Linked DNA regions of Homo sapiens: region 1 is linked to region 2. A link means that fine-mapping ties the variant in region 2 to the plasma level of a protein whose gene starts in the linked region. Region 2 holds a variant in brackets. A gene starts in the other region. All regions are shown on their forward strands.

Region 1 (5,358 bases), not on the chromosome of region 2:
CTTCTGCCCTCCACGCCCCACACCCTGGGTAGGAGCCGCCTTCACAGCTGCTAACCCCTGCCCTCCAGCCCCCACTGCCTCTTCGGTAACGGGGCTGTGACTGGCCTAAGCCCTGGGCCTCCACAGGGCCCCTGTCCAGCCCACCTTGCTCAACCGCAGCGTTCCGCATCACGCCTGCCCCTTAGTGGTTGGGGTGTGCATGTATATTTATACACTGTAATTACATAAATACAATTTAATAATCAAGGGTCAAGTGCCGTTACTGCACTGTGCAATTACAGAATCACTCCAGAGCAGACACCATGGCATCTCAGCTGAAAACCGGCACCCGCCTGCATCTATCGTGAGAAAGTTGGAAATTCCTTAGCCCAGCCTCGACCACTGCCTGCGGTGTTGGGAGGAGTGGCCAAGGGCTGGGGGTGGGGGGACCTCTGGGACATCCAAGACTGCAAGGCTCCTGGGGGGTCCGGGACCCTGTTTGTTGTCCCCCCGTTCCTCATACTGGGGAGAGGAAATAGGATGGGAACTGAGGCTGTGGACCAGGGAGCCCCCTCTACATCTTGGCCGGCCCACCCCCACCTCATGCCCATGAGGTGCGTCCCCCGAGGTGGAGAGTTGAGGTGGGCAAGGCAGAGGGCAGGAGTGATGGGGGTGAGTCCCAAAGGCTCAGGACTGCAGACTCTGGAAAAAGGAGGAGAAGGCCCAGAGTGGGGTCCTAGCTGGAGGCTTGGGGTGCTGAGGGAGGGTCCGGCGTCTCCAGGTCCACCAGGAAAGGGAAGGGCTCTTCTAGGGCTGATGGTCCTGCAGCCGAAAATGTACCCCTGCCCCCACTGCACAGGACCTCCAGACTCAGGGTACCCAGCCCTTCCCTGCCACCTACCTCTGACACAAGGAGAAACTGAGGCACGGGGGAGAACCTCCAGCCCAAGGCTCCGAGCTGGGACTGGACCCAGGCTCCTGCCTCCTGACCTTCCTGCTGCCCTGGGAGCATGTGGAGCGGGGTCCCTCGCGGGGGCACCTGCCCCTGGGGGATAGCCCGCCAGCCAGGGAGCACACCCTCCCGCAGTGGTTAAGCCGGCTGCTTCCCTGGCCCCGCCCTGCATTTGGGGCTCACCCAGGACCTGGCCCAGCTTAGCCTTTCCCTTAGAGACCCCCACATCCCATGGAGGAGGGATTTGGCCTCCGTTTCTCCCCGAGGTGGGTGGGAGGCAGGTGGCTGAAGCGAGGTGGGTGCAGGGTGGAAGCGGAGAGGAGCTGGGGTTGGCAGACCGCAGCCTCCCCAGACCTCTTTCTGGGGGGAGGGCGAGCACTTCTACCTCACCCCTGCACTAGTCCCGTGAGGATGAAAACCAAAAGCACTCAGAGGGCTTCTCCACCCCTATTTTGAGGTCACTGACCACAGAGGCAGGATGGTGGTCCCCAACAGGCTACACCCCAGCCCCAGAGGCCTCCCAGTCTGGAGATGGACTCCCTGCCCTCTCTCATCTTGGAGCAGTGAGCGCTAGGGACAGTCCTGGCCTGAGCCTCCCGGGCAGCCTGGCCTCCTTTCAAGCAGGCCAAGTGCACAGATGCTGCCTGCACCTGCACAGCCACCCGCCGTCGACAGGAGAGCAGAGGTACCGGGTCTGCTCCCATCACAGAGAGGAACGGGCTCCCCGGCCCGGCCCTGGGCTGGTCGGCAACCCCCACTCCCCACCCTGCCTGCTCAAAAGAAAGGATCCTCCTGCCTCCAGCCCCCTCCACCCCCTCTCCAGGACCTTCCTGACCGTGCGCTGGGCCTGTGCAGGTGTTGAGCCACACCCACACCATCCCAGGGGGCGGGGTCTCGAAGGGGAGAACAGGTGCCACAGTCAACAGGAGGGAGGGCTTCTGGCCGAGGTGGCAAGGAGGCTCCAGGAGGCGGCAGCGTTGACCTTGGGTGTTGAGGGATGATGAGAAGGAGTTCTGTAGGAAGGAAGGTGCTCCAGGCAGGGGGCCTCGGGGAACAAGGGGATGCTGGAGGAGGTGCGTGGACTGGGGGAATTGGGGGTGTCCTACGAGCCACGCTGGTATCAGAGGCGTGTGAACCAGAGCAGTTCCATACTGAATAAGAGCTGGGCAAAATGAGGTCGCGAGGAGGTGCGTGGAAGGCGGGCCTAGCGTTCAGTGGGATGCGGGGAGGCGCAGGAGACGCAGCCAGAGAGGCGAGGGGCCCAAGGAAGTGCTCAAGAGGTGTCCCCCGGCAGGGACTACAATGCAGATTCCCTGGAGCAGGGGCGAGCCGGGCCCAAGGAGCAGGAAATGAAGAAGCCAGGAATCCCAGCTGGTCCCTGACCCGGACGCACCCACCCTGCCTTCCCCACAGCCTGGCCTCTGGCTCTGCTCCCAACGCAGCAAGCCGGGGTATCTCCGACCTAGCCCTGGCCCTGCCCGCCGGAACCCCGCAAAAGCTATCACTCAGCCCTCGGCCCCGCCCCGGCCCCACCCCGGCCCCACCCCGCACTCTCACAAGGTGTCACTCAGCCCTCGGCCCCGCCCCGCCCGCCCCATCCTCCTCTGGCTCCGCCCCACCAGCCTCGTGCGGTCACCGCCCCGCCGGCGCACCTGCGCTGTCACTCAGCCCTCGGCCCCGGCCCCGCCCCGCCTGCCCCACTCGCACACGGGCTATCACTCAGCCTGCGCCCCGCCCTAGCTCGCCAGAGGCTCCGCCCCACCCGCCTGCCAACACGCTGTCACTCAGCCTTAGCCCTGCCCAGGCCGGCCCTCGGCCCGTCAGAGGCCTCCTTCGTGCTGTCACTCAGCCCTTGCCCCGCCCCCTCCCCGCCCCCCTCACACGTGCTGTCTCTGTCTCTGGCCCTGGCCCGCCCCGCGCACTTGCGCTGTCACTCAGCCTGGACGCGCTTCTTCGGGTCGCGGGTGCACTCCGGCCCGGCTCCCGCCTCGGCCCCGATGGACGCCGCGTTCCTCCTCGTCCTCGGGCTGTTGGCCCAGGTAAGGCATCGGCACCTGCGGGGGTCCCCGCTGCCTCCCTCGACGCTGCGGGACAGTGTCTTCAACTGCAGCCGCACAGGTCTCCCCCAGAACCACTGGCCCTGGTCGCCTTTGGGGGCCTGTGAGCGGAGTGGCTCCGGGTGGGTCCCTGGGCTGGGGGCAGCACCCCAGGGGTTGTGGGGAGTGAGTGTAACCAAACACTCCATCTGGTGGAATCACCCCCAGGACTGCAGAGTGCTGCTGGGGTCAGGGACCCCAGGCAGGGGCCACCCAGGTAGCCGTGCCCTCTCTTTGGAGGAACCGCTGCCGGGGTCTGGGGGTTGCCAGTCTTGAGTGGAGCAGAGAGAGGGGGGAGCGGCAGGAGTGCCCCTCTCTGGGGGGCTGGGGGCCAGGTTTCTATAGGGACTCCCTGCGGTGGGCACAGGACCCCTGGCTAGTCTTGGGTTTTGTCCAAACCCCCCACCCCAAGTTCCTGGCCAGCAGGGGTGGCTGCAGGCCCTGCCCCCAGGAACTCACCCTCACGGCTACTTCTCGATTGGGAGGGCCCAGCCCGAGCCAGGTCGCAACACACGGCCTTGCAGAGTGGCGTGTGGCAGCCCTGGGGGCTCTGTTCCTGGGCTTCACCTGGGACCCTGCCGCAGCTGCCTGGGGTGATCAGGCCTGGGGGCCCAGCCCCCAGAGGCTGCTGGACTCTGCCCCTAAAAATCTTGTCTGGACTGCTGGCACCGTGGTCTCTCCAACGTGGGAGCAAGCCAGAGTGGAAGGAAGCCCAGGCCTCAGCCCCCCACACCCGACATGGGTACTGCCTAGCTGGAGCCACGTCTCCTCACACCCTAGGGGGACCTAGACATGGAGGATGTGGCCTCAGTGGCTTCAGCCCCCAGGGACTGGGCTGGGCTGGGGCATGGCCGGCTGTGGTTGGGACGTCACTGGGTACAAGAGGGCAGCCTCTCTCTGGCCAATTCGAGAGAGAATGCACATAAAGGGCTTAGCGGTGCTCACAGTATTCATTGCTCTTGTGGTCCTGGGGTGGTCAGGGAGTGCTGGACACAGTGAGTAAGGGAAGCCACTCCTTTCCCAGCCCCCACTGAAGGGGCTTCCTGAGTCCCCTCATTCCCACAGGCCTCCCAGCTCCAGCTGGCTCCAATTTCAGCCCCTGGCAGCTGACCAGGCGCCTGGCCAGCCAGACCCTCCAGCAGCTGCCCCTGAGGGCACCACGGCTCCTGCCACCCCCGACTCCCCCATCTGGAGACAGTGGTGGGGGGAGACAGTGGCTCAGCATGCGTGCTCACCCCCCGGCCCTCCACCCCTCAGCCCTCTGCCGGGGAGCGCAGGCTGGGGGGCTCCATGCCTCCAGGGCCCTTCCCCACCTGCTCTGGGGACAGGGTTTCTTCCCTGGCACCCCAACCCAGGGCATGGTGGTGGGGAGGCTGGCGCCTGTGAAAACATTCCTCCAGACCTCTTCCTTTGGATTTGGGAGTGTCTGCCTTTCAAAAGGCCCCAGGGGGCTCTGTGGCAGGTGGGGAGGCAGGCAGGACCTCTCCCTCCTCAGAAGCCTTCCCTCTCACTGTCCCTTCTTTTCTCGCCCAGGGCTGGGGGACAATAACCCCCTCCCCCGACAGCTGGAGGCTGGGGGAGGTGGTGGAGGTGGGGGCCAGATGGCAAGGGGACTATCGCCAAGGCTCAAATTCACTCCACTGTGAGGCAAAATATGTCAGTGTCAGGACCCTGCCTGCCCCTCCCCCAGCAGCTCAGCTTTCAGGACTGTGAGCTCTCCTGGGCAGCCTTGGGGTCCTGGGCCGCCTCCTGGTGAGCCCCCAGGCAGGCAGCGTGGGCCCATCAGGGCCTTCTACAAGTGAGGGGTTGCTCCCCTGCTCGGGCCACCTCTGATTGCTGAGCTCACTCAGCCCCACCCGGAGGGTGTCTTCAGAACTGGCCCCTCTCAGCCCTGCTGCACCTACACCATCCCTAGTTGCTGGTTCTACACCTGGGACCCCACCCCAGCTGGGAGGCGGCTGAGGTCTGGGGCAGCACACTTGACTCACAGAGAACCCCAGCCTGCTGGGAAGGTCCCCACTTCTGCATCTGGGTTTTGGGAGCCCCTTGGTCTCTGGGAGACAGTCAGCAGCACCCTGGGGGCCAGGCAGGGGCTCTTAGCTCGGGTGACTGTGACCAAGGCCAAGAAGGGAAGTGGCTCCCAGGCCACTGTTCTTCCCACAGTGGAAGGACAGCCCCAGACACCGTGCTTTGGAGGGGACAGCTGCCTCCATGCCTCTTCTTCCACATCCCTTCTCTGAAGCCCGCAGCAGCTAGAGAGGGTGGGGCCCAGGGAAGATGCTCCAGCCGCTCTGGGCCAGGCCAACAGCTGGGGCCATTCCTGGCATGCCT
Region 2 (5,358 bases):
CAGGGGCCTCACGTGACTGCAGGGCTCTGGGGAGGTGGGGCACCTGTAGCCTGACCCCCACCTTGCTGCTTCCAAAGCTTCCTTGCCCAGGGCTGGGCCTTGTGGGGCACCCCCCACACCGTGGTCTGCCTGCCTGCAGGGTGCCCAGGGAGACCCTCCGCCTTTAGAAGTCCAAGTTCTTTCCCAGCCCCCTCCCTGCCTAGCTGCCTGCCCCTGGCGCCAGACCTGGCCCGCACCACTGGGGCACTGTGTTCCCAGGGGCACCCTCCTATCCCACCAGCCCCAAAGCCCAGCCAGGCACCCTTCCCTGCCACCTCCCTGGGCCCTGCCCCAGCAGCCCAGTCGGCCTCCTCGGGCCTTCTGTCACTCGCTCACACACAGCACCATGTCAGTAAACAGCTAACTCAGGCCTAGGGAGTTAGGTAGGATGGGGGGAGTGGGGTGGGGGGGCAGGAGGGTGTCCCCAAAGTCAGGCTTGGCTGGGGCGAGGCGCTGCCAACCCCTGCCGCCAGGGGGCTCCAAGCTCCACGGCACGATCTGCTCAGGGTGGCCCTTCTTCCACGATCCAAGCCCTAAGAACAAGAGGCTGGGCCTGGGCCCTGCAGAGGGAAAGGGGATGGTGGACGCTGCAGCCACTGAGTGGCACAGGACCACGTGTAACCTCAGGGCAGGGCAGCCAACTCCACAGGCTACATGGATGGAGATGTGGATAGAAGCATCTGCCCTGGGTGGTGTGGGCTGACCCCAAGGGTCTTGGCACCAGGGCTGATCCTGACTTGCTGGTCCCCGAAGGGCGTTGGAGGGTATGGTGCCCATCCCTACTCTGGTCCCATTTCCTCAGGCCCCTGATCCCACAGTGCCTGGGACAGGGCTGTGGGCCCAGGGAGCACCCTCCCTCTCTGACCTCTGCCTGGTCTTTCCGGGAATGGGCCACTGGGCTGCTGGACTGGAGGCCAAAGTCCTGCGGGGAACGTGCGGGAAGAGCAGAGCGTGCAGGCAGCGGAGACTAACAAGAAGCCCTGGCCCAGAGGGCAGGAACAGGTGGACGAACAACCAGATGAGAGAACGTACCAGGCATGCAAGCTAGACCCAGGAATCAACGGGCTGAGGCTTAGCGTCCCCTACGGCGTCCACCAGCCTGACCGCGGGCCTGCTGGGCCCGGGGGGAGGGGCCTTCCTGCTGGGGTCGAGCTGCAGCGCACGGGTGGGCATTAGAGGCACAATAGAGCAGGTTAGTTAGAGCTCCTGGGGGGACAGGGCAGGGGCAGGGCCGAGGCTGGCGATGTAAGGGTTGGCCTGCCAGGACAGCACAGGTAGCACCAAGGGCGCAGGGAGCCGGAAACGTGTGGCTCACACGGGCCCAGGGCGGGCACGTGCACACACACAGGCCTGCACAGGAAGCCAGGGGATTGGCACACAGCAGGCAGCAGGTCCTGCCATCGCTGGTGGACCCTGGTGGGCTCTCACACGCACATGCACAGAAGGGTGCACACACACTAGCTCACAGGCTCTGGCCCATGCAGGGTGTGGCCGGGCAGTGTTGTCCCCAGTGGGTGGGAGCTGCAAACTTGTCAGTACCCACAGACTGACTGGCGTGAAGGGGCTGCTTCCTGGGCTTGGCCCCACAACCCAGCTGTACCCCAGGGCCCAGACCAGACCCAGCATGGCCTAGGCTGCTCTCCAGCAACCCCTAGACACGGGGCCTCACCGGGGACCTGCCCACAGCCACATGACCACTTACTTTCAAGGGTTCCTTCTCAGAGGCCTCTCCTGCAGAGCTGGCGCCCCGTGGCCTCCGCTCCCTCCGGTCCACCGTGGAGTATCCGTCTGTAGATGGGGTAAGGTGGGGCATGAGGGGCGCTCTGAGGGAGGCCCTGTAGGAGCAGATCTCCCTCTCAGCCCAGACACAGGGGACTCGTGGGACAGGGGCTTTGGGAGACAGCCCCCACCCACCCTGTCCTGGAGATCCAGGCTGGTGCCAGCTCTCACCAACACCCTGCCAACTCTCCAGACTCCCCTCCACTTGTGGGTCAGAGCCCCTGGCTGAGCACTAATCCCTCTCTAGCTGCCCTGTACCTCACCCTCTAAGCACCCCTAAACCAAATATCTCTCCTCCACCCAGCACCATCTACACCCCATAAAACCAGCAGGCCCACTTCAGGCCTTGGTCCCCTCCCGGCACAGAAAACCAACCACACTGCATCTGCACTCACCTGGGCCCAGCGCATCCATGGGGATCACATCCCGGCTGCCAGTTTTCTCGCCCTCTGCAAGGCAGGAGGAGGAGACGGGCTGCATGTGGCAGCCAGGGGGGATCGGGGCAGAGAAGCCCACACAGGGCTGGCCCAGGTAGCCCTAGAGGCTCTCTGTCACTAAGGTGCCCAACCTCTGCCAGCTGGCAGCCTCACCCCAGCTTGACAACAGCGCGGATGCTGTGGGAAGGGAGTAGCCAAGAGGCAGAGGGCAGGGAAAGTGGCCTATGGAAGCCGTCTCAGTGGGAGGCCTGACTCCTCCTTCACCTTCACCCAAGGGTCAGGCAACTGGGGCAGCTGGGGTCGCCACCCTCTAGGCTCCCTAAGCTCCACCACTCACCAAGGCTCTTGTCCACCAGTGGCAGCGTGCTGTCATCGAAGCCCCCAGGACTCAGTGCTCCCTTAGGCCCCTTGGCAGTAGCAGCAGCTGACTGAGACATAAAACACAGACACAGGGTGGGTGAAGCACATGGAGTGGGAATAAGGCAAAGTGAGCAGGGAATGGAAGGAAGGCCAGGGAAGCCGCACCTGGAAGCGCGCCTTGGTCCAACCATCTTTCTGCAAGGTACCACGCAGCTCCTTGTAGCTCCACACTGTCTGCAGCACGTGTGACGCCGCCTTCGCTTCGCGTACCGATTGGCTGTGGGGCCGGGGGCGGGGTCAGTGGTGGCCCCTCCCCCACCTCC[G/C]CGGCTCCCCAAGCCACCGACCCCGCCCCTCCACACCTGGAGGCCACGAGAGCCACCAACGCTGGCACCCCGCGTGCCTGCAGGAGCGAGCGCGCGTTATCCAGGCTGTCGGACACGATTTCGTGGATGGTGTTGAGCACCGCCACCACGGTGTCTTCCTCCAGGCAGGCCCCCGGTCGCGGCGGAGCCTGTGCATTGCGCACATTCCGCACAAGCTCAGCCATGGCGTAGCTCCCTGAGGGGCAGGACTAGGTGTCAGAACACACCTCTGCCCCACCTCTCCAGGAAGGAGCAGGGATCCCGCGAGGGCGAGGGGCACTGCCAGGAGAGCCCCTGGAGACCGCCTGTGTGCAGGCGGTCACAGGAGCCCCTGTGAGCAGGGCGCTGAGCTTCAGAGACAGGGCCGGGGGGACTGGAGCTACCTCCAGTTGGGACAGCGCCCAAGCGAGAGGGCCGGGGCCTGGACTCCCAAACCACTCATCCTCCAAGCCCCTCCGATGGGACCCCAAAGCTGCAGGCACAGTTCGGTGCCCAGGCGTGGGCTTTGCAGGCGTCCTCACCGATGAGGTCTTTGTTGCGCCGGTCCAGCGAGAGGTTGCGCAGAGCGATGGCGACGGCGCGCACCACCTTGTCGGTCTCAGACTGCAGCAGTTCCACAAGCACCGGCAGCCCGCGCTCTTTGCGCACTGTGGCGCGGATGTACGTGGCCCACTGCGGAGGCGGGGAGAGGGTTGCTCAGACATACATGCCAGGCACTCTCCCACCTCCAGACGCTGACCGCTCTCTCCAGCTGGACCTTCCTGCTCCCGTGCCCGACAAAGCCCTACCCCAAAAGCTCAACGGCACCTCCACCGAGGTTTTCCCACCGTCCAGGGTGCACGCATTGCCCGCAGCCCATACACCTCTTGGATCCTGGGGTGGTGGTGTGGCCCCTCCTTTCCCCGCCAGCCGAGGCAGGAGCTGCACCAGTGAGGTGCCTGGGATTCCCTCTCTCAGGACTTGCCCACCCTGCCCGACCTGGTCCCTCACCATCCAGTTGCCGGCACTGAGGTTCTGCAGAGCGCCGGCGGCAGCCTCCAGGGTGTTGAAGTTCCGGCTCTCCGTGAGGAGGGAGAGGTAGAGACGTACCACCTCGGGCTGGTACAGCAGCTCAAAGCCTAGGTGCAGGGCAACCGCCACCCACGGTCACCCAGAATCTGCTCTCATCCATCATACCCCTCCCGCTTCCCGCTTCAGAGCTCCCAGGGCGTGGGTGAGCTGGGGCCAGGGATGGGTGTGGATGAGTCACGTAATATTTACTATCAACATATAGTCACCCAAGGGGAAAAGCGTTCCCATTTCACAGAGGAACAAACTGAGGCTCAAATCAGTTGGACCTGCCTGGCAGCAGGAGCATCCAGGAGGCCTGGGGTGGGGAGGGAGGTGTCAACCAGGAACGCTCTCCTAGCAACAAGACCCGCATTTCCCGGTAGGTCCCTGAAGCTATGCATCCTGGCCACGCCCCTGGTAATAGGGCCCACCCTCCCTGGCAACAAGACCAGCATTGGCCAGTAACTGAGAGTTGTATAACCAAGGCCACACCCCTAGCAAGAGGACCTGCTTTCACCAGTAACTGAAGCTGTGCAGAGAGCTACGCCCCCTAGCAACAGGGCCCACCCTCCCCCACTGACAATAGAGCCCACCCTCTGTAAGTCAACTGATGCAGTGCAACCAGGGCAGCTGCCCTAGCAACAGGAGGCACTCTTCCTGGCAACCACTCCAAGTTCCCGGGCAACTGAGGCGCCGTCCTGCTGCTCTGCCCAGTGCTCCAGAAATGAGGGGTCAAAACAGCCTTCCAAGCTTGCCTGTCTCCAAACTGGGGCTTCAGCCTGGCTTGGGTACTACCTCGATCTCCCCTGTACCCACCCAGTGACATTTCATCACACCCTCGCCAGTCCTCATGCCCCATGCTCCCTCTACTCCTGCCCTGCTGGGCTTTCTGCTCCAACACACTCCAAGCACACTCCCCGCTGGGGTATCTGCATCAGCCCTGCTCTGCCTGTAATACTCCCCCACAGCCCTCCTGCGGCTGGAGCCCTCCACCCTGGTGACATGCAGGCTCTTCCAACTGGCTAGGCCCCACCAGGACAGACCTCTCTCTCAAGCCAGATCCCAGCATACAGCCCAATAGGCACTGCCCTGTCCCTGCAGGTGTTCGTCTGGCCCAGCCTCTGAACCTGGATGTGAGCATGCCCGCCTGGCTCCCAGCCCCCTCAGATAACTCAGCTTTGTGGCTAACACAGGAGGCCCTGCCTCCACTGGAGGCGTCCCTCCAAACCTTCCCACCTCTTACGCACCGTGAGGCCGAGCAAGCCCTCGGCCTCTCTGTGCCTGTCTCCCCCAACCTTGCCTGACATGACCCATGGCACTTCCTCCCATTC

Alleles and levels. Alleles are on the strand shown, and positions count from the first base shown. The strength of an association depends on the size of the effect and on how common the allele is.
With allele G in place of C in region 2, the plasma level of the protein whose gene starts at base 2,845 in region 1 is lower (weak association).

What was found. A credible set is the group of variants that fine-mapping cannot tell apart. PIP is the posterior inclusion probability: the model's chance that the variant is causal. The UK Biobank Pharma Proteomics Project read protein levels with antibody pairs (Olink). The fine-mapping took linkage between variants from a reference panel, not from the people measured, so its PIPs are less certain.
Region 1: it holds the start of CDH15, and the variant in region 2 is the best candidate, but not a certain one, in a credible set for the plasma level of the CDH15 protein (UK Biobank, PIP 0.72).

What each region holds. Positions count from the first base shown.
Region 1 is chr16:89,168,904-89,174,261 of GRCh38, forward strand. CDH15 (cadherin 15) reads left to right here and starts at 2,845. Exons shown (of 14, transcript NM_004933.3): 1 at 2,845-2,970. The coding sequence starts at 2,929. LINC02138 (long intergenic non-protein coding RNA 2138) reads left to right here. Exons shown (of 3, transcript NR_046200.1): 3 at 1-244. RefSeq lists a silencer at 2,281-2,920.
Region 2 is chr22:19,970,145-19,975,502 of GRCh38, forward strand. It overlaps ARVCF (ARVCF delta catenin family member), which reads right to left. Exons shown (of 20, transcript NM_001670.3): 12 at 3,968-4,095; 13 at 3,499-3,649; 14 at 2,975-3,173; 15 at 2,781-2,892; 16 at 2,593-2,683; 17 at 2,214-2,267; 18 at 1,742-1,827; 19 at 1,072-1,191; 20 at 1-599. The coding sequence ends at 1,084. Among named protein-coding and RNA genes, the nearest start is that of MIR4761, 9.1 kb to the left of the region's middle. The variant G/C (reference allele first, on the strand shown) is at 2,939.